2 separate regions of the Homo sapiens genome follow, and region 1 is linked to region 2. Evidence: fine-mapped expression QTL. A gene starts in region 2. The other region holds a variant in brackets. All regions are shown on one strand. Distances are between the middles of the regions. Region 1 overlaps ACTR3-AS1 (ACTR3 antisense RNA 1). Region 2 holds the start of ACTR3-AS1 (ACTR3 antisense RNA 1).

Evidence for each region. PIP is the estimated chance that this variant, and not a neighbour inherited with it, causes the effect.
Region 1: its variant is the best candidate, but not a certain one, in a credible set for the expression of ACTR3-AS1 in Th2 cells (Schmiedel 2018, PIP 0.51).

Annotation. Positions count from the first base shown.
Region 1 is chr2:113,834,853-113,844,107 of GRCh38, forward strand. ACTR3-AS1 (ACTR3 antisense RNA 1) reads right to left here. Exons shown (of 5, transcript NR_110174.1): 3 at 8,412-8,501. Among named protein-coding and RNA genes, the nearest start is that of ACTR3, 51 kb to the right of the region's middle. The variant G/C (reference allele first, on the strand shown) is at 4,170.
Region 2 is chr2:113,885,656-113,894,910 of GRCh38, forward strand. It overlaps ACTR3-AS1 (ACTR3 antisense RNA 1), which reads right to left and starts at 5,337. Exons shown (of 5, transcript NR_110174.1): 1 at 5,238-5,337. ACTR3 (actin related protein 3) reads left to right here and starts at 4,434. Exons shown (of 12, transcript NM_005721.5): 1 at 4,434-4,668. The coding sequence starts at 4,625. LOC124906071 (a long non-coding RNA gene) reads right to left here and starts at 4,112. Exons shown (of 3, transcript XR_007087205.1): 1 at 2,408-4,112. RefSeq lists enhancers at 947-996, 1,007-1,116, 3,805-4,114, 4,235-4,324, 4,357-5,012 and 2 more and silencers at 4,405-4,464, 4,705-4,964.

The DNA.
Region 1 (9,255 bases), 51 kb before region 2:
GAAACAAAAAAACAACAAACAGCCAACTGCAGGTGGGAGGCGGTGGCTCATGCCTGTAATCCCAGCACTTTGGGAGGCCGAGGCGGGCGGATCACCTGAGGTTGGGAGGTTGAGACCAGCCTGACCAACATGGAGAAACCCTGTCTCTACTAAAATGCAAAATTAGCTGGGCGTGGCAGCACATGCCTGTAATCCTAACTACTCGGGAGGCCGAGGCAGGAGAATCCCTTGAACCTGGGAGGCAGAGGTTGCAGTGAGCCGAGACTGTGCCACTGCACTCCAGCCTTGGCAACAGAGTGAAATCCGTCTCAAAAAAAAAAAAAAAAAGAGAGAGAGAGAGAAAGAAAGAGACAGTGAACGAGGACAAACAACTGTGCATGTGTATTTCCAGACCATTTTCAATTGGAATAAAAAATCCGACCTTTTCTGAATCCAAAGCCCTTCTTGATAATGAATATTCACTGTCGCCCTCCATATGCAAATAGCAAAGTTATATGATTATATGTATACTATAAAACAAAATGACCCTTCAAACTTTCTTATTATTTTATTTATTTATTTATTTATAGAGACAGGGTCTCACTATGTTGCCCAGGTTGGTCTCCAACTTCTGGGCTCAAGCAAGCCTCCCACCTCAGCCTCCCAAAATGCTAGAATTACACGTGTGAGCCACCACACCTGGCCTTGATGTTTTGATATATGTATCAAAACATATTGATACATATATCAATATGTGATTGTAAAATGATCACCACAACAAAATTAATTGACATATCCATCACCTCACATAGTTACCATTTTCATGGCTCACTGCAGCCTCAACTTCCTGCACTTGGGTGATCCTCCCACCTCAGCCTCCCGAGTAACTGGAACCATACATGCATGTCTCCCATCCTGGCTAATTTTGTAATTTTTGTAGAGATGGGTTTTCGCCATGTTGCCCAGGCTGGTCTCCAACTCCTAGGCTCCAGAGATCTGCCCTCCCTCAGCCTCCCAAAGTGCTGGGATTACAGGTGTGATCCACTGTGCCCAGCTTCTTTTTTATTCTTGTTTTTACTTTGCATTCTCTTTCCTTTTGGATATTTCTTCTTTCTTTTCTTTTCTTCTTTTTTTTTTGAGATGGAGTCTCGCTCTGTCGCCCAAGCTGGAGTGTAGTGGCATGATCTCGGCTTACTGCAAGCTCCGTCTCACAGGTTCAAGCGATTCTCCGGCCTCAGCCTCCTAAGTAGCTGGGATTACAGGCACGGGCCAACATGCCCAGCTAATATTTTTGTATTTTTAGTAGAGAAGAGGTTTCACCATTTTGGCCTGGCTGGTCTCAAACTCCTGAGGTCGTGATCTGCCCACCTCAGCCTCCCGAAGTGCTGGGATTACAAGCTTGAGCCACTGCGCCCGGCCTCTTCTTTCTTTTCTAACTTCTTGAATTGTATATTAAATGCTTAATTGACTTATCCTTAATATTTCTTTTTGGTGTAAACACATTTTAAGGCTCTATCACTCAAGATGAAACTTTAGCTGAGGGTGGCATAAAAGCAGATTTCCTGGGTCTGGATCCCAGCTCTTCACTTACTAGCTACAAGACCTTGGGCAAGTTATTTCATTGCTCTGTGCCTTGGTTTTTCCTTCTTGTTCAAATCACTTATTCTTTGTCCTTATTATGTTTTAAATAGTTCATCCATCATTATCTGATGTGCATGTGTCAATTCTCCCAGTTTGAGAATTAACATATTCCAGGACATTTTTTCTTTTTTTAGTGCATACAAGTACATGATGATTCTATCCTCTTGGTGAACTGTTCCTTATCAGGGTGTTGTATCCCTCTTTATTTTTTTATTTTTTATTTTTTTTAGACGGAGTCTCGCTCTGTTGCCCAGGCTGGAGCGCAGTGGCGCAATCTTGGCTCATTGCAACCTCCGCCTCCTGGGTTCAAACAATTCTCCTGCCTCAGCCTCCCAAGTAGCTGGGACTACAGGCACGGCTAATTTTTTGTATTTTTAGTAGAGACAGGGTTTCACCATATTAGCCAGGATGATCTCGATCTCTTGACCTTGTGATCTGCCCGCCTCGGCCTCCCAAAGTGCTGGGATTACAGGTGTGAGCCACCGCACACGGCCCCCTCTTTATTCTTAATAATGCTTTTTTGTCTTAAATTGTATTTTTGCAAATATTAGCATTTTTATACCAGGTTTCTCTTGTTTGGAATAGGTGTTGACAGGTTTACATTTTTTCATATCTTCATTTTCAAAGACACCCAGCTAGCGTGTGGCAAAGCCAGTTTTATTCCTGCATCCCCTAACCCCCAGTCTATTATTCTTTTTTTCGTGTCTCAATGTCTCAGGTCCACCTTCTTTCATGATTCAACATAAGTCACTCTTCACTTTGAGGCTCCCCCAGCAACTCAGTCTATCATGATTGCTTCCTCTTCTGAGTGCTCAATGTCCACAGTACCCATTTGGTCCTTAAAATCTTAAAAGTATGCTACCTTGGTTTTGTGTTGATCTCTATCCTGGAAGTTCCTTGAAAGCTACAATATGAATTATATCTCTTCTGCAGACTGCTCCAAAATTACTTTACTAAGGGGGGCTAGTGGTACAATCTGATTGGGAAGGGAGTGCGTAGGGGACTTGTCTGGAAGCTGCATTTGCATAGCAGACACTTCATTTTATTTGCAGTGATTGAGGGTGAGTGTTACAGAGTTTAGGAAGAGGTAAGCTAATGCCCCCGTATACCACTCTTTCAGCTGTCACTGACCTCTACCGGCTTGCCTATGATAGTGGTTTCCAACAAATTTAGCTGCTCTTCAAAATCACCAAGGGAGTAAGATTTTTTTAAGTACTTATTTTCAGATCTCCCTCCAGAGCCACTGAGTCAGAATCTCTTGAGTGGAGCTTGGGAACCTAGTGTTTAAGGAGCTCTGTTGAAATTCAAGACATCTAAGCACCTGGTCCGTAGGCAATAACTGCTTGTAAATACAGGATGGGTACCAAGTCGGGAAGCAGAAAAGCTTTAATTGACATTCTATAATAATATATAAGAAAGTGATATCTGTTTCCAAACTCCCATTGCTACAAATGGTTTAGTGTAAAATAAGCTCTATTCAATCCCATTTAGTAAGCATTTCTATATGAAAGAGGCATATAATAATAACAAAAGTAATATCTGACGTCCGCTGAACACCTAATACACACCAGCACTTTGTCGAATGTTGTATGTACACTGTCTCATTTATTATTCACCAGGCTTCTCTGTGTGCTCTATAATCAGGGTCAACTTATCCATTAGGCTCACTAGGCACTATGTCAAGGGTCCATGACACTATTAGGGGCTCATGAAAATGTTTTTGTTTATTTTAGCATCAGAAAGGAAAAAAAAAGAACAGAATCCCTGTTGAATTATATTAGCCTTTTTACCAACACAGTCACAAAATATAGTTGGTAATCATTTTCATGGAGAAAGGGGCCTATGAAGGCAAAAGTTCCTTGGGCCTCTGAAAGTCATAATGCAAGCTTCACCATAATCATTCCCATTTAACAGCTGAGGAAGCTGAAGATCAATGAAGATGAAAATTTAAACTTGCCCAAAAGCCACATCTCTAGGAAACGGCAGAAGTGACCTTTGGACACAGGTCTGTGGGACTCTACTGATGACCCTTTCAACCACCACACTGTATACTGCACAGCATTATTTAGCAAAGAAGCTCATACTAAGTTGAGAAAACAGGTTTGTTGTACATTAACCAGTTAGAAAATCCTTCAAGAAAAGAATATAAATTAATGTCTAAATTCAGGGACAGACCCAGATTGCGTGGGGCCTGAGGCTTTTACAATTTAAATGATCTTCTTAAGACAATACAAAATTATAAATAAAAATTAGCCACACAGTCTTGGAGGGGACTGTCCAAGTTAAGGGGCCCTCAAGTGTAAGCCTCCTTAGCAACATGGCCCATCCGCCCTTGCCTAAATGTCTTTGGGTCTAAAGAAAGCCAGGGTAGGAATCAGTGTAAACCAGGGCATATCAGCAAAGGACTCAAGGAGGAAATGGGACTTTGCAGTATGGCTGTGAGTTGGGCACCCTGAGTGCAAACCCTGGGGGCCAAGTGTGAGCATAACATGTTTAGAGGAAAGCAGAGAACTCACCCAACTGAACCTACTGTGTCCGGGGTAGGGAGA[G/C]GATCCAGGGTTCCCTGAGGAAAGTGAGGCCTGTTTTGTTTAATTCATTAATTTATTTATTTTTAAGACAGGGTCTCACTCTTTCACCCGGCTGGGTGCAGTGGTGCAATCATGGCTCACTGCAGCCTTGACCTCCCAGGCTCAAACAATCCTCCCACCTCAGCCTGCTAAGTAGTTGGGAACTACAAATGGCTAGTTTTGTTTTTTGTTTTCAATTTATTTTTTTGTAGAGATGTGGGGGGAGGAGTTCTCCCTGTGTTGCCCAGGCTGGCCTTGAACTCCTGGACTCAAGCAGTCCCCCAGCCTTGGCCTCCCAAAGTGCTGGAATTACAGGTGTGAGCACTGTGCCTGTTTTAAATACCAGGATGGAGGCCAGTGGGAATCCTTATACTTATTCCTGGGTCTTATGTCATTACCTAATAGTAGGGCAGGACCCTTGGGAGGGTCAGGAAGAGGCAAAGAGGTCTAATTGGGGGGATTAATCTGAGTGTGTTTTAATAAGCACCTGAAATTATGGTTGGCTGGGAGGAGGGAAGAGAAAAAAAATGAGTAAGCGTCAAAAAGGCTCAATCAAGTAGATAATGAGGACTACAGGGGAAGAAGAGTCAGCGATCATTTATGCATTTCGAGCATGGATCACTGAAGGAACGGTGTGAGATTGCCAGAAATGTAGAGACCGGTTACGTTTGGTTCTAGAGAAGTTAAATCCAACAAAATAATCACAACAGAGAGGCATCCTGAACTAACTTGACCAGACCCGCTGGCCTTAGCCTTTGCTGTTGTTTTCCAGTTACCAATGCCCCATCTGATTGACACTTGTTTTTCTCAGTTGTGTTAACAGCATTAAGACATTACAGTCAAGGTCGGCCTCCTCTTCTTTCTGGCTAGGAAGCTGTGGTGTTATTTTATACACACACACACACACACACACACACACACACACACACACACACACACATTTCCGTCCACAGTTCCTGGACCATATCTCCCAGAGCCCTCGTTACAACCTTTCGTTATAAGGTTGGGTGTGTTAGGCCTCAGGAGCAGATTCAGAAAACAGAATCTCTCTGACCTTTTCCTGCCCTTCTTTCACCTTCTGGAAGGCAGGACTCTAGTCTTACCCCACCTTTCTGACTACGGGTCTTAAGATCCTCTCCAGAGATGCTCCTGCCCTATAAGCCGGGGGAAGAAATGCTGATATCATGAATCTTCCACAAAAACCCAAGAGGACTGGATTCAGGCAGCTTCCAGATAGCTGAACACACGGAGGTTCCTGGATGGTGACCGCCAAGGGAGGGGATGGGAGTTCCGCGCCTCTTCCCCCATACCTCACCCTGTGCATCTCTCCGTCTGTATCCTTTGTAATGCCCTTTATAACAAACCAGTAAACTTTTTTCCTGAGTTCTGTGAGCTGCTCTAGCAAATTAACTGAACGCAAAGAGAAGGTGTAGGAACCCCAGCTTGAAGCTGGTTGGTCGGAAGTCCCAGAGGCCCACATCTGCAATGGGTGTCTGTGGAATGGGCAGTTTTGGGGACTAAGCCCCAAGCCGATAGAATCTGATGCTATCTCCAGGTAGACAGTGTCGGAACTGAATTGGAGGACATCCAGCTGGTGTCTGCTGCTATGTGAGTCGGGAAATTCCCCGCATATTTAGGCAAAGAAGTCTTCTTCTTTGTTGTTGATTGCTGCTGAGGTGGTGTGAGGGCCAAGAGAAAACTGGGTTTGAGAGTATTTTTCGAAACAGAAGCACTTTGCCTTTAACATGGCTTTTGTTAAACACCATCATTAGAAGATTAGTTATAATTCAACTCCCAGAGTTACAACCCTCTCCTCTGCCTTTCCAGGTGAGCGGCCAGAGGACTAGTCACAACGAAAATAGAAAGAGGAGAAGGGATTCAAGAGGGCATTACAGAGGTATAAAAATCAGAGGCCCAGAGCAGTGGCTTATGCCTGTAATCTCAGCACTTTGGGAGGCCGTGGTGGGCAGATCACCTGAGGTCAGGAGTTCGAGACCAGCCTGGCTAACATGGTGAAACCCTGTCTCTACTAAAAATACCAAAAATTAGCCGGGTGTAGTGGCGGGTGCCTGTAATCCCAGCTCCTCAGGAGGCTGAGACAGGAGAATCGCTTGAACCTGGGAGGCAGAGGTTGCAGTAAGCCGGGATCGTGCCATTGCACTCCAGCCTGGGTGACAAGAGCGAAACTCCACCTCAAAAAATATATATATATATAAATAAATAAAAAATCAAGGAATTATACAGAAATGGCGAAAGAAAGGAAAAAAGTTAGATTGGTGAACAAAGTGCAAAGAAGTCAGCAAAATGAGGAGGAGGCTCAAAACTAGAACTTGCTTTTTGGGATATAAATTTCTCTGTAAGGAATCCTCTCCTCGCGCCCCCCACAGGAAGTGGGGAACATCTTTCCTTTACCCCCTGTGACTCCCCAGGTTGCAGTCAGTGCTTCCCATTGCAGAGCCTACCAGGTTACCAGAGACCAAGGGAGCTGGGAAATGCTAGTTCCTTTTTATAGAGGAAGAGTAAAGAAGAGTTAACACACAGAGGGGTTAACTATCCTTTTGCTCCTGATTTGTAACTTTATTATATTGTGATCAGGGAATATGGTCTATATAATAATGACTGTGTTGTTTGTTGACTCACTTTGAGACATAAGACATAGTCAATTTTTGTAAACTTTTTTTTTTTCAGATGGAGTCTTGCTTTGTCACCCAGGCTGGAATGCAGTGGCGCGATCTCGGCTCACTGCAATCTCCGCCTCCTGGGTTAAGCTATTCTCCTGTCTCAGCCTCCTGAGTAGCTGGGACTACAGGCATGTGCCACCATTCCTGGCTAATTTTTGTATTTTTAGTAGAGATGGGGTTTCACCATGTTGGCCAGGCTGGTCTCAAACTCCTGACCTCAAGTGATCCGCCTGCCTCGGCCTCCCAAAGTGCTGGGATTACAGGTGTGAGCCACCACATCCAGCCAATTTTTGTAAATGTTCTAAGTGTTGTTGTGTATTCTTTATTTGTGTGTGTGTGTGTGTGTGTGTAGTGTTCCACATATTTCCGTAAGATTTGGATCATTAATTGTGTTATTTGCACAATAAAAATAAATGTTTTTGAGTCATATGACTATTTTGTCTGCATGAAGTCAGTTTTTGAAAGAGGTTTTTACCAGCCAGGTACAGTGGCTCATGCCTGTAATCCCAGAACTTTGGGAGGCTGAGGCAGGTGGATCACCTGAGGTCAGGAGTTTGAGAACAGCCTGACCAACATGGAGAAACCCCATCTCTACTAAAAATACAAAATTAGCCAGGCATGGTGGCACATGCCTGTAATCCCAGCTACTCAGGAAGCTGAGGCAGGGAAATCGCTTGAACCTGGGAGGCCGAGGTTGTGGTGAGCCCAGAGAGCACCATTACACGCCATTACACTCCAGCCTGGGCGATAAGAGTGAAACTCCGTCTCAAAAAAAAAAAAAAAAGAGGTTTCTAAAAATCTCTCATTATGATTATGGATTTATCAAATTCATATGTCATTTATATGGAGAATAGTCTATAAAGGAACATTAATGGAAATAGTTGGAAGGCTGGTGCAGTGGTCTGGGTGAGACATGGTGGTAGTTTGGCCTAAGATGGTAAGAATGTGGAGAGAACAGGAGAGAAAGCAATTAATCCTGATTCTTAGGTTTCTGGTGTGGACAAATGATGGTATGGTTGGTGGTACCAATTACCAAATGGCATGCCACTGAGCAATGTTTTTCCTTGAGCACATTACATAAACTCTCTGGATTCTATTTTCTTATTTATCAAAATGGATATAACAATAGATTGTATTTCATAGTGTTATTGGGATGGTGAGAAGAGTTAATATATGTAAAGTGCTTAGCACAATATCTAAGTCGTTGTTCAATGTGTGCTTTTGTTATTACCAATTAGGATATAGTTAAAGGAGGGAAACTTTGGGTTTGAAGTGGGAAATGAAGTTTTTCTGCGGAGGCTCATGACATGTGAGTTGTTTTATAAGTTATCTTTCAGTAAAGAGGGTCTGAGTCATCTTCGCAAATGCTGGCAGGGCTGAAAGAGAATGGAAGTGAGAGAAGACCACTGGAAGGTCAAAGGCAACTTTCAAGAAGTAGCAGAATGCAGAAAAGATTTTCTTAAGGTTGGGAAGGTAAATTATGGTTTCAGGCCGAGAATGGGGAGACGTTTCACAAAGAGATGAAATAGCTGACTCTACTTACTTTCCTTTTTTTTTTTTTTCAGTGTCCCAGTGTGATTGATTCTGGGTAAGATAGCCAGCCGTCCGCAAAACGCTGCAGGAGAGCACAACTCTGGGAAAAAATGACAGCAATTAACAGAGTAACAGGAACTTACAGAACAACAGTAACTTACCTCGAGTGTGATTTATCATATGATTTTAGTAAACAGATTACGCTAGCGACAGTTGCTAAGAAGTCTGTTTTAAATTTTTGGTGCAAAAGGAAAAAGTGATTAACTTGACAAAGATTCATAAGCACATATGTTTCCAGCTCTGAGCTGTGGGGCAGAATGAAAACTGAAGTTGTGGATTCTATAGTATTCACTGCCTTGGCAGATTTCGATGTGAGATTATGCATGACTACACCCCTCCCACAAGTTTCCATAGGCTTAGGAATTTTCTTATTAAGGCTGTTATGCAACCTGCATTTTAGCAAGGGCATACAAACGCACGGAAAGAATATTCCCATACAGAAATCTTTTTTTTAACTTTTGTTTTTGTTTTTGAGACAGTCTCGCTCTGTCGCCCAGGCTGGAGTACAGTGGTGTGATCTCGGCTCACTGCCACCTCCGCCCCCAGGTTCAAGCTATTCTCATGCCTCAGCCTCCTGAGTAGCTGGGATTACAGGCATGTGCTACCACACCAGGCTAATTTTTGTATTTGTAGTAGAGATGGAGTTTCACCATGTTGGCTAGGCTGGTCTTGAAATCCTGACCTCAGTTGATCCACCCACCTTGGCCTCCCAAAGTGCTAGGATTACAGGCATGATCCACCGTGCCCGTCCCCCATATACAAATCTTGACTTATCTGTATGCCCCTTCACTGGG
Region 2 (9,255 bases):
AAGACAGTTTTCACAGTCCCTCCCCTCTGACCACTAGGCTGCTTGGGGTACTTTTACAACTTACCTGCTCTGAATTAAGGCTCTCTGTGAATCTGATTCATCTGCCAATTTGCAAACAGTCAGCCCTGTAGTACGTACCTAAGTTGATTTTTAAAATACTATTTCTCATCTTAAAATAATGGAAATTGAGTGACATAAATTTCCTGGACACTTTTTAAGATCCAAAGACAATTTGCTAATTTGTCGTTACAATTAAAGAGCCCCCCAAAAGGCGTAAGAACTGGATTTTGACTTGGACTTCTGTTCCTTAGTTTCTTTAACATATTGGGGGCCGGGAGTGGTGGCTCACACCTGTAATCCCAGCACTTTGGGAGGCCGAGGCGGGCAGATCACGAGGTCAGGAGATTGAGACCATCCTGGCTAACACAGTGAAACCCCGTCTCTACAAAAAATACAAAAAAAAAAAAAAAAAATTAGCCGGGTATGGTGGCGGGCGCCTGTAGTCCCAGCTACTCAGGAGGCTGAGGTAGGAGAATGGCATGAACCCAGGAGGCAGAGCTTGCAGTGAGCCGAGATCGCACTACACTGCACTCCAGCCTGGGCGACAGAGCAAGATTCCATCTCAAAAAAAAAAAGAAAAAGATATTGGGAAAACTCACTTAAACTCTATGGGCTTCTGTACCACTAAGGCTTCTCAAATTTGATGCAAGTAATGGGAACTTGCTGTGGCTAACTTGAGCCACAGGAGAAGGATACTGCAAGACTCACAAATGCTTGAAAGTTTCGGAACAGGTTTGGAAATGGGTAAGAACCAAGGACCGGGTTGACCTGAACTGAAAGGAAATTGAGGTGCTATTAGGGACAAATATGAAATGAAGGATGAACTGTCTCTGACATCCTTTGCTTCTGTGTTTGGAGATGAGTAAGCAGGGAGTGGGTGCATATGCAAACAGGGTGGTCAGAAATGCTTTGGCCGGATGTGTGACTGAAGGCTATGTGCAGCTGAGGAAGGCTGGGCCACCACAGTAGCAGAGAGGCTGACCAATTTGGCATGCAGCAAGCAGGAAGTAGAAGGGATCTTAAGCAAGCAAAGTGTTTGGGTAGACAAGATTATGAGGAATGAGCACCAATGACATTTCCAACAAGCACTGAAAGCTTCCAAATGCTTCTAACAGTTACTGCCTGTACAAACACAGGACAGTCTTGACTATGTGAGACTGTGACAGTTTCCTCATGCCTATGAAATGAGAGACAGTACTTAGCACTGACATGAGCTTCATATTTGAAGGCAGCAAACTACTGAACCACATGTAGCTTCCGAAATCAAAAGATGCAAACTGGCAGACCACAGGTCAGATATGACATGCAGAAAAAAATTAGTTACTATCTTAGCCTAGTTTGTGCTGCTTACAGAATATCAGAGACTGGGTACTTTATAGAGAACACAAATTATTTTTCATAGTTTTAGAGGCTGGGAAGTCCAAGATCAAAGGGCCATCATCTCGTGAAGGCGTCCCTGCTGTGTCAAAACATGGTGGAAGGCATCACATGGGCAAAAGAGAGAGAGGGAAGCGGGGGCAAACTCCTTTTTATCAGGCACCCAGTCCTGTGATTCATTCATGAAGACAGTGTCCTCCTGGCCTAATCACCTCTTAAAGCTCCCACCTCTCAGCACTGTTGCACTGGAAATTATATTTCTCACACATGAACTTTGGGGAACACATTCAAACCATTACAGTTACCAAAGATAAAAATGCAGATTTCAGATTTCTCTTGGGGAAGAAAAAAGGCTCTGGCAATACCAGGGCTGTATTTCCACATGGCAACAGTTGTCTGTTGCCTTCTGTTGGGTTGTGGGCTCTCACATTGCCATACCCTCCTCATGGCCCCCTTCACTCATAACAGTACCTGCCTAGACCTCGAAGCACTAGTTTCCAACCCTGCTTGAGTTAACTACTTCCATGACAACTGTGCAAGGCCAGAGTGTGGGCAGCTACCTTGAGGGCCACCGGCATGGGCTGCCCAAGTGACCGAGGGCACTAACCTCTGCTCTCGAAACTTCTTTGGTAGGATCTCTTCACTCCTGACTTACTACTTGTAACTGCTGGAAACAACCATTTATTCTACCCCTACTAAACCACATCTGTCTTTTCTGTCAGAGCCAATCTTCAAGCATATGCTTCCTCAAAAGACTTTAATTACCAGGTAGTAGAAGCGGCAGCAAAGAGTCCCCATCTAGCATCTTCTAAAATGTAGTGGAGAAACCAACGACAACGAATCTGAGACAACCAGTTGTTTGACTTCTCTGAAAACAACCTCTAAAAAAAGCCTTCTCTCGTGAATAGCTGCAGACATGCTGGGCACTAATTGATGATGATGCCCTTTAGTGAGTCTCCTCTGCACATACCTGATTCCATTTGGATGCTGGCCCTCACATACTTCTATCTGCGAACTCCGGAACACAGAATATCATACAATGTATGATTCAATCTGGACTCTGCTGGAGCCATTCTCTACAAAGCAGACACAACTTTTTCTTGCCTAAATCCTTTCAAGTTGCTTTATTTTTATTTTTAAACTAATTACCATAAATCTAATTTATCAAGCTGCTTTTAAGATAAACTTTAAAATGCTTAGAGCAGTCTACAAATTCTTGCACTGTTTCACTCTTCCTTATCTCTCAGTCTTCATCTCCCATTGCATCTTCTCTGACTCTTTCATATGGATCTTCTTTCAATTTGTGGAAGAAGCCAAGCTTGTTCCTGCCTCAGGTCCTTGACACTTGCTGTTCACTCTCCTGGGAGACTCTTCCCCCCATCTTAGCTTTTAAATACCAGCTGGTCAGACTCCTTACCTGCCTTCCACCTTCCTCTCATTCTCCCACTCCTCGCCTTCATTTCTCAGAGTCCTCCGCTCTCTTCTTTCTATTGCTCTTAACACAATTTGTCTGTTTTCCGCTAATCTGTAAACTCTACAAGAGCACTTAACTATTTTGCATCCCACCGAATATTCGGAGTCAGCACAGACCCCGTCATAATAGAGTAGGTAAGCAATGCTTACCTGTCAAATGAATGAATGAAACACCCGATTCATCCCCCAAGCCAGCTTAATACATTAGATGATCTTATGGACTGAATAAGACATCCCTCCTTTTAAAGAATATTTTTGTTTTAGCTTCACATCAGCAAACCCCGAACGGTTCATCCTAAGATAAGCCTGGTAGAGAGGAAAGATACTAACCTTCTAGGGTCCTAAAGTGGAACTAGGAACTTATTAGATATGCACATTCTCAGGCATTATTTCCGATAGCCCAGTCAGAGAATTCTGGGGGTATGGCCCAGCAATCTGTTTTAACAAACCTTTCAGGTAATTCTGATACACACTAAAGTTTGAAAGGTTTCTTTAAGGCTTTCCAGTTTTCTTTTCTTTTTTGGAGGGATGGGGGGGGGTCTCCCCATGTTGCCCAGGCTGGTCTCGAACTCCTAGCCTCAAGCTATCCTATCCTCCCACCTCGGCCTTCCAAAGCATTGAAATTACAGGCATGACCCACTGCGGCTCGCCTCCGTTTCTAACTTAAAAAAATTTTCTTTGGAGGGGAGCCTTAATCCTTTCTATTATCCTGCTAGTAGAATCTTACTACTCCTGAGGGTAATCTTTGTCATAATCCAAAAGCCTTGAATAAAGGCCTATTTGTATAGTTATGCAGAATATATTCCTGGGAGGTTTGCCTTCCTAGGAGCACAGGTCGGCCCTGGGAGGTGGGGGTTGGGGGGCAGGGCTGCATTCTAAAGTCCTGTAACAACGCACAAGTACAACTGAATAGAACTCGGAACAAAGGCATCAGGGCCACGGTGCAAGTCTTTGTTCATCCGTTCCCCGACTGCTCACCCTGTCTGATACCGCTCTTTTCCACCCAGAAAAGCAGCCACTCAAGTTTTAAGAATGGATGTATGCCGCGGACGTTTTCGATTAGGCCGTTTTCTCTCAGGCACTGGAGGATATTCGTGGCTGCAGGAGGCGCTTCCACCCTTTCCTCAACCTAGCAAAGAAGTAACTGAAACTAACCCAAGGGTTACAACCGAAAAGCCCCTTCCAGCTTCAGAAGCAGAACTGGAAGCTCGGATAGACTTCTCCGCCTCTACACTCCTGGAAAACCCGCAGTGGATTTCACCAACTTCAGGATCGGAGCCCAGGCAGGCGAACGTACCTTATTGCGCATGCTCGCTAGCCCCTCCCGCTCGGAGCGGAAGGGGGAGCGCTGGGGGCCTGGGCCTGGCCTGGCCGGGGCGTCGGCACCGGCGGCCATCTTGGCTTCCCGGGGAAAGGCGGCGTGAGGGGAAGAAGTTGTAGGGTGGGGGCAGGAGTGAGGAGGAGGGAAGAGAGAGGGGGAGGAGGCCGCGGCGGGGCAGGGCGGGGACTGCCTGCCTGCCTGGGTTGCGGAAGTGATAGCCGCCGACCGAGCCTGCTGCTTTCTTGCTACTGCTTCGGCTTCCCGGCTACCCCCCGGACGGTGAAGGCGGCCCAGCTGTGGATGGTCAGATAGCCCTTGTCTCCCGCCGCCAATCTCTGGCCCCTAGCAGCACGGAGCAGACGGCGGCAGCAGCAGCAGCAGGCGAGGAGGAAGATGGCGGGACGGCTGCCGGCCTGTGTGGTGGACTGTGGCACGGGGTAAGGGGGCTTACGGGCGGGGGTGGGGAAACTGAGGCGGAGGAAGGAAGATGGCGGGGGAGGGAGGAGGCCGGGAAATGAATGGTGCGGCGAGGTGCCGCCGCCGGCTGTCAGTCCTAGACCCGCCGGCCAGCGAGGGGTGGGGCCCGCAGCCAGGGCCTCGCGGGTCCCCTCGTTTCTCCCTCCTGGGACTGGGGCGGGGGCGCGGGCCCGAGATTCAACCCCCAACCCTCCCAGCGGCTTTCTCCGCGCGACCCCTCCCGGCCCTTCCCCCACTACGGTGGGCAGCGCCGCCCAAAGGGCGCTGGGGACGGTCGTCTTGGGGGTGGTCCCCGGGCCCGACCCATCCGGCTTTCCTTTCCCTCCGCGCCCGTTTTTGCCAGTCGGTTTGGGGACCCAGGGGCCGAGCTCGGGGACTGGCCTGGCAGGGGAGCTAGAAAAGAGAAGCGCTCCTGGTAGGTTTGACAAGATCGCTGTGACAACATTCTGCCCAGGGTGTGGGTGGGGAAAGGGAAGAATCGGACTCTGAAAATGGGAACCTACAGTGGGGCTTTCATTTGACCACCCACCTTCTCCTTTCGACTCCTGGTCATTTCCATCTCCCTCTGCGTTTTAACCGGTGAACCAAGTCACATTTTAATTCGAGGGAGAAAGATGTCATGTGTTACTTCTGTAGCCTCAAAAAAGTCCCCCAGTGAGCAAGCGCGCTGCAACTTCCTTAGTTTTGTCAAAGCCGCTTCCTGCTTTCAGTCTTTTATACCCTTATAAGGTAGTTTTTAGTTTCCAACCTGAGCACATCTTACTAGAACTTTTAAGCAGGTTTTAAAGAGACTGAATTACCGGTGCTTGGTGTCCATTTATATGACTTAAAAAAATGTACTTATGTTTCATGGAGTGGGGGAAAGGAAGCACCCTGGAAAATAAACTAATTTAAGTTGTATTCGTTCATTCTGTGATGGTATCTTGAAGGAAGCAGGAAGGTATAGAGGTATATAGGAGGGTGTTTAAGTTGCAAATAGTTACTCGTAGATATGTAGGGTAGTTTGCGAAAATGTAGAGTGGCTTTAAAGTGTGGTCGTTCATTTTGTATTAATAGACGTTTTAGAGAGTTGTACCACACTCATAACTGCATAGAGAATAGACTACCCTTATTTTTATGTAGAATCACTGCTTCAGGATGACATATAGGAAAGTGGTTTTTTTTTCTGTGCTGATGACATCTCTCCAATTCCCAGAACACTCCCAGTTTTTTTTTTTTGAGGGGGAAGTCAGTAAGAGGTGGACTGTCAGGCTTTTTTTTTTATTATTAATTATAATTATTGATTTCATTATTGTTACTTAAAAGATTGTGTGTCCTTCACTCTTTATGTGAAATTTCTTTAATCTTCATTCTCATAACTAGCTAGTGTGGCAGTTTCTAAAATCCCAGTTAGGTAGAGAGAAACCACCAACTTCTTAATATTCTCCTAGGAAAACACTAGCCTTGGAACTTCTATGTATTTTTTTGATGAACACTTTATTTAAAAGTTTTTCCTTAATTCAGTCTCATTTCTCTGAACCAATAATTTTTTTTATTTCTCCCTTCTTAGTCTAATTGGTGAGTATTTTTATGTCTAGGTTCAGTTTTAAAATTAGATTTGGCCTGAGTCAGTAGGATAGGACTTTTCAAATGTGTTTTGTTAAAGTGACGAATATTGCTACATAATTAATGCTTTAGAAATTACTGCGTTTTCAAAAAAATAGTGTAAATAATTGTGGCCCTGAGAAATAATATGGTAACATCTCAAGTAGTATGTTACTTTTCTAATCTCCATTTTCCCCCTTTTGAAATAGTTTCGAATTAGTATACAAGATGTTTCATTGAGATAAACTGTCCTTAAGTGACCTCCTTTCCTAAAGGGCAACCTTGAATTTAAAACATGCTGAATGACCAGTAGGATCGGGAAGAGGGGTTCAATTTAACCTAGGCTATTTCTGTTTTAAAATTACGATTATCACAATAGTGTATTTTTAAGTTATTACATTGGTTTCTCCAATAAGGAGAGGTTATTAACTGCACATTGATGATTTGAATGGAACTGATTAGGAGTCCCCTTGCCACCTCACTCTCTTTTACCATTTGTCACAATCTGAAATTCCCCCTTTAGAGTTTCAGTTATTTTGGTTCTCAAAAGCCTTTTTGGTCTTACAAGTTTCCAGTGGTGCCTCCTGGGAAGTTACACCTTCAGCTTTATTTGCACATGGAGGATAAGTCCTTGAGGTTGAGGACCCTGAGATAAACATCTCTAAGTATGGCCTTAACAGGGAGCTTTTACATTTCAAAATTCTGTGGTCCCCGAATGCAAATTGTGCACCTGTAATTTGTCTAATTTTTTTTATGCTTTAGAGAATGCATTCAGCTCTGAGGTCTCTAAATTACAATTACTCACTTAGTTTAAGTAAAAAGTTATAACCTGAATCAGGTTGCTCATTTCATTCATTATATAAATTAGGGGAAAGGTGGCTGAAAAAAAGTGGCCATCTGTAAAACTTGATCGTCTTAGATAGGAAAGCTGTTAAGAGTTAGGAAACTTGAAACTTAAGCCCAAAACTTTTAGGGATCGTCCAGCAAAACTCAACATATGAATCACCTAGATTCAGGTCATAAAAGAGAATACTTATTTTGAAAAGAATTTGAAAAGAAATGCTTCATTCACATTGATACCCTTATCTACACACTTTTTTGGTCTGTATTGGAAAGCATTGTAAAATACAGTTGGGGCACATAGATTCCCATTGGTGGCTTGAAAACTAAATAACAGAACTCAAACCTGCTATTAGTGGTGAGAAAAGCATTTTCTTTAAAAGGCATTCACAAACATTTTTTAAAAAAACATTGTAACACTTGTATGATCATCCTAAGGTTTTTTTTTTTCTGGGCGGTGGAAGGGATCGTTTTTTAAATGTGTTTTTTGCTTTTTGTTTTTTTGTTTGTTTGTTTGTTTGTTTTGAGATGGAGTCTTGCCCTGTCGCTGGGCTGGAGTGCAGTGGCACGATCTCGGCTCACTGCAACCTCCACCTCCCAGGTTCAAGCTATTCTCCTGCCTCAGCCTCCCGAGTAGCTGGGACTACAGGCACATGCCACCACACCCAGTTAATTTTTCTCTTTTTAGTAGAGATGGGGTTTCACCATGTTGACCAGGATGGTCTCCATCTCCTGACCTCGTGATCCACCCGCCTCAACCTCCCAAAGTGCTGGGATTACAGGTGTGAGCCACCGCGCCCAGCCTTAAAGGTTTTTTTTAAATGCATGTTTTTACTCAAGTTTCTCCATCATTCAAGCCAAATGAGGGCGCTCCTTATTAACTCCTTGTTATATCGTAGCTTGGTTACAGAGCTGCATTGTGAATTTCCTTTTCCCTTTTATGTCTTTTTTTTTCCCCTGGTAAATAAAATATTGGTAAATTAGTTCCACTGATTATGATAGCAGAGGTTAATATAGCCCTATGGTCAAAGTCTTGGATATATTCATATCTGGAGCAGATTAAGGAATTTTGCTAACTGACTTCAACTTCTTAGCAATCTTAAAATGTAAGCTTAAATATCTTGTAGGTGTCAGTGAAAGAGGAGTATGTTCATCTTGTGGCCACAATTCAGCAATTAGTGCAGATAAGAATGATCTTGTTTGAAGAGCAGTGGGGAAAAGCTGGGTAAATGAAGGAAGGTATATGTGGGAAGTTCATGTTTCTTCCATGAATTCTGTGCGTATTGTTTAATAATAATGCTGTTTCTTTTTTTTTTTTTGAGATGGAGTTTTGCTCTCATCGCCCAGGCTGGAGTGCAGTGGCATGATCTTGGCTCACTGCAACCTCCTTCTGCCTCCTGGGTTCAGGTGATTTTCTGCCTCAGCCTCCCAAGTAGCTGGGATTATAGGCGCCCACTACCACGCCCAGCTAAATTTTGTATTTTTAGTAGAGACAGAGTTTCACCATGTTGGCCAGGCTGTTGTTGAACTCCTGACCTCAGGTGATCCACCCACCTCATCCTCCCAGAGTGCTGGGATTACAGACATGAGCCACTGCACCGGCTTAATAATGCTATTTCTTTAGCCATCTCCAAAGGCAGAAATATTCACAATAGCTTCTTAACCAAAAAGCACTCATTGAAATTCTTATTCCTTGATGAGTCATGCTTTGCATGCTGTTTGAAGTAAGTACAACAGACATGCTCCTAGTGAGAAGTCAGACTCTTACTTAGACTTAGCGAAAGACTCTCCCTCCTTTCCTGCCTGCCAATTTTGTGTTGAAATATTGACTTTGGATTGCAAATACTATATTGCGGTGAACGAACTTTCAGGCTTATTGTAAAACACAGTTCAGAATTTTAGGCACAGAACGGAAAGGTCCTGTGGAGGACCTGCTGGCCATGCTTTCTGTGACAGCTATTTTTTAACCTAATTTTATAAGTGAAAAAACAGAATGAGAGAATTTAAATTACCTTTTTGATGCCGTCTACCTGGCAGGTGGTTCGATCTGCTATTTGGACCTGAGTTCTGTATTTAAGTCCTGTGTTCTTTCTGTTAACACTCCGGGGACTCCTGACTGCCTT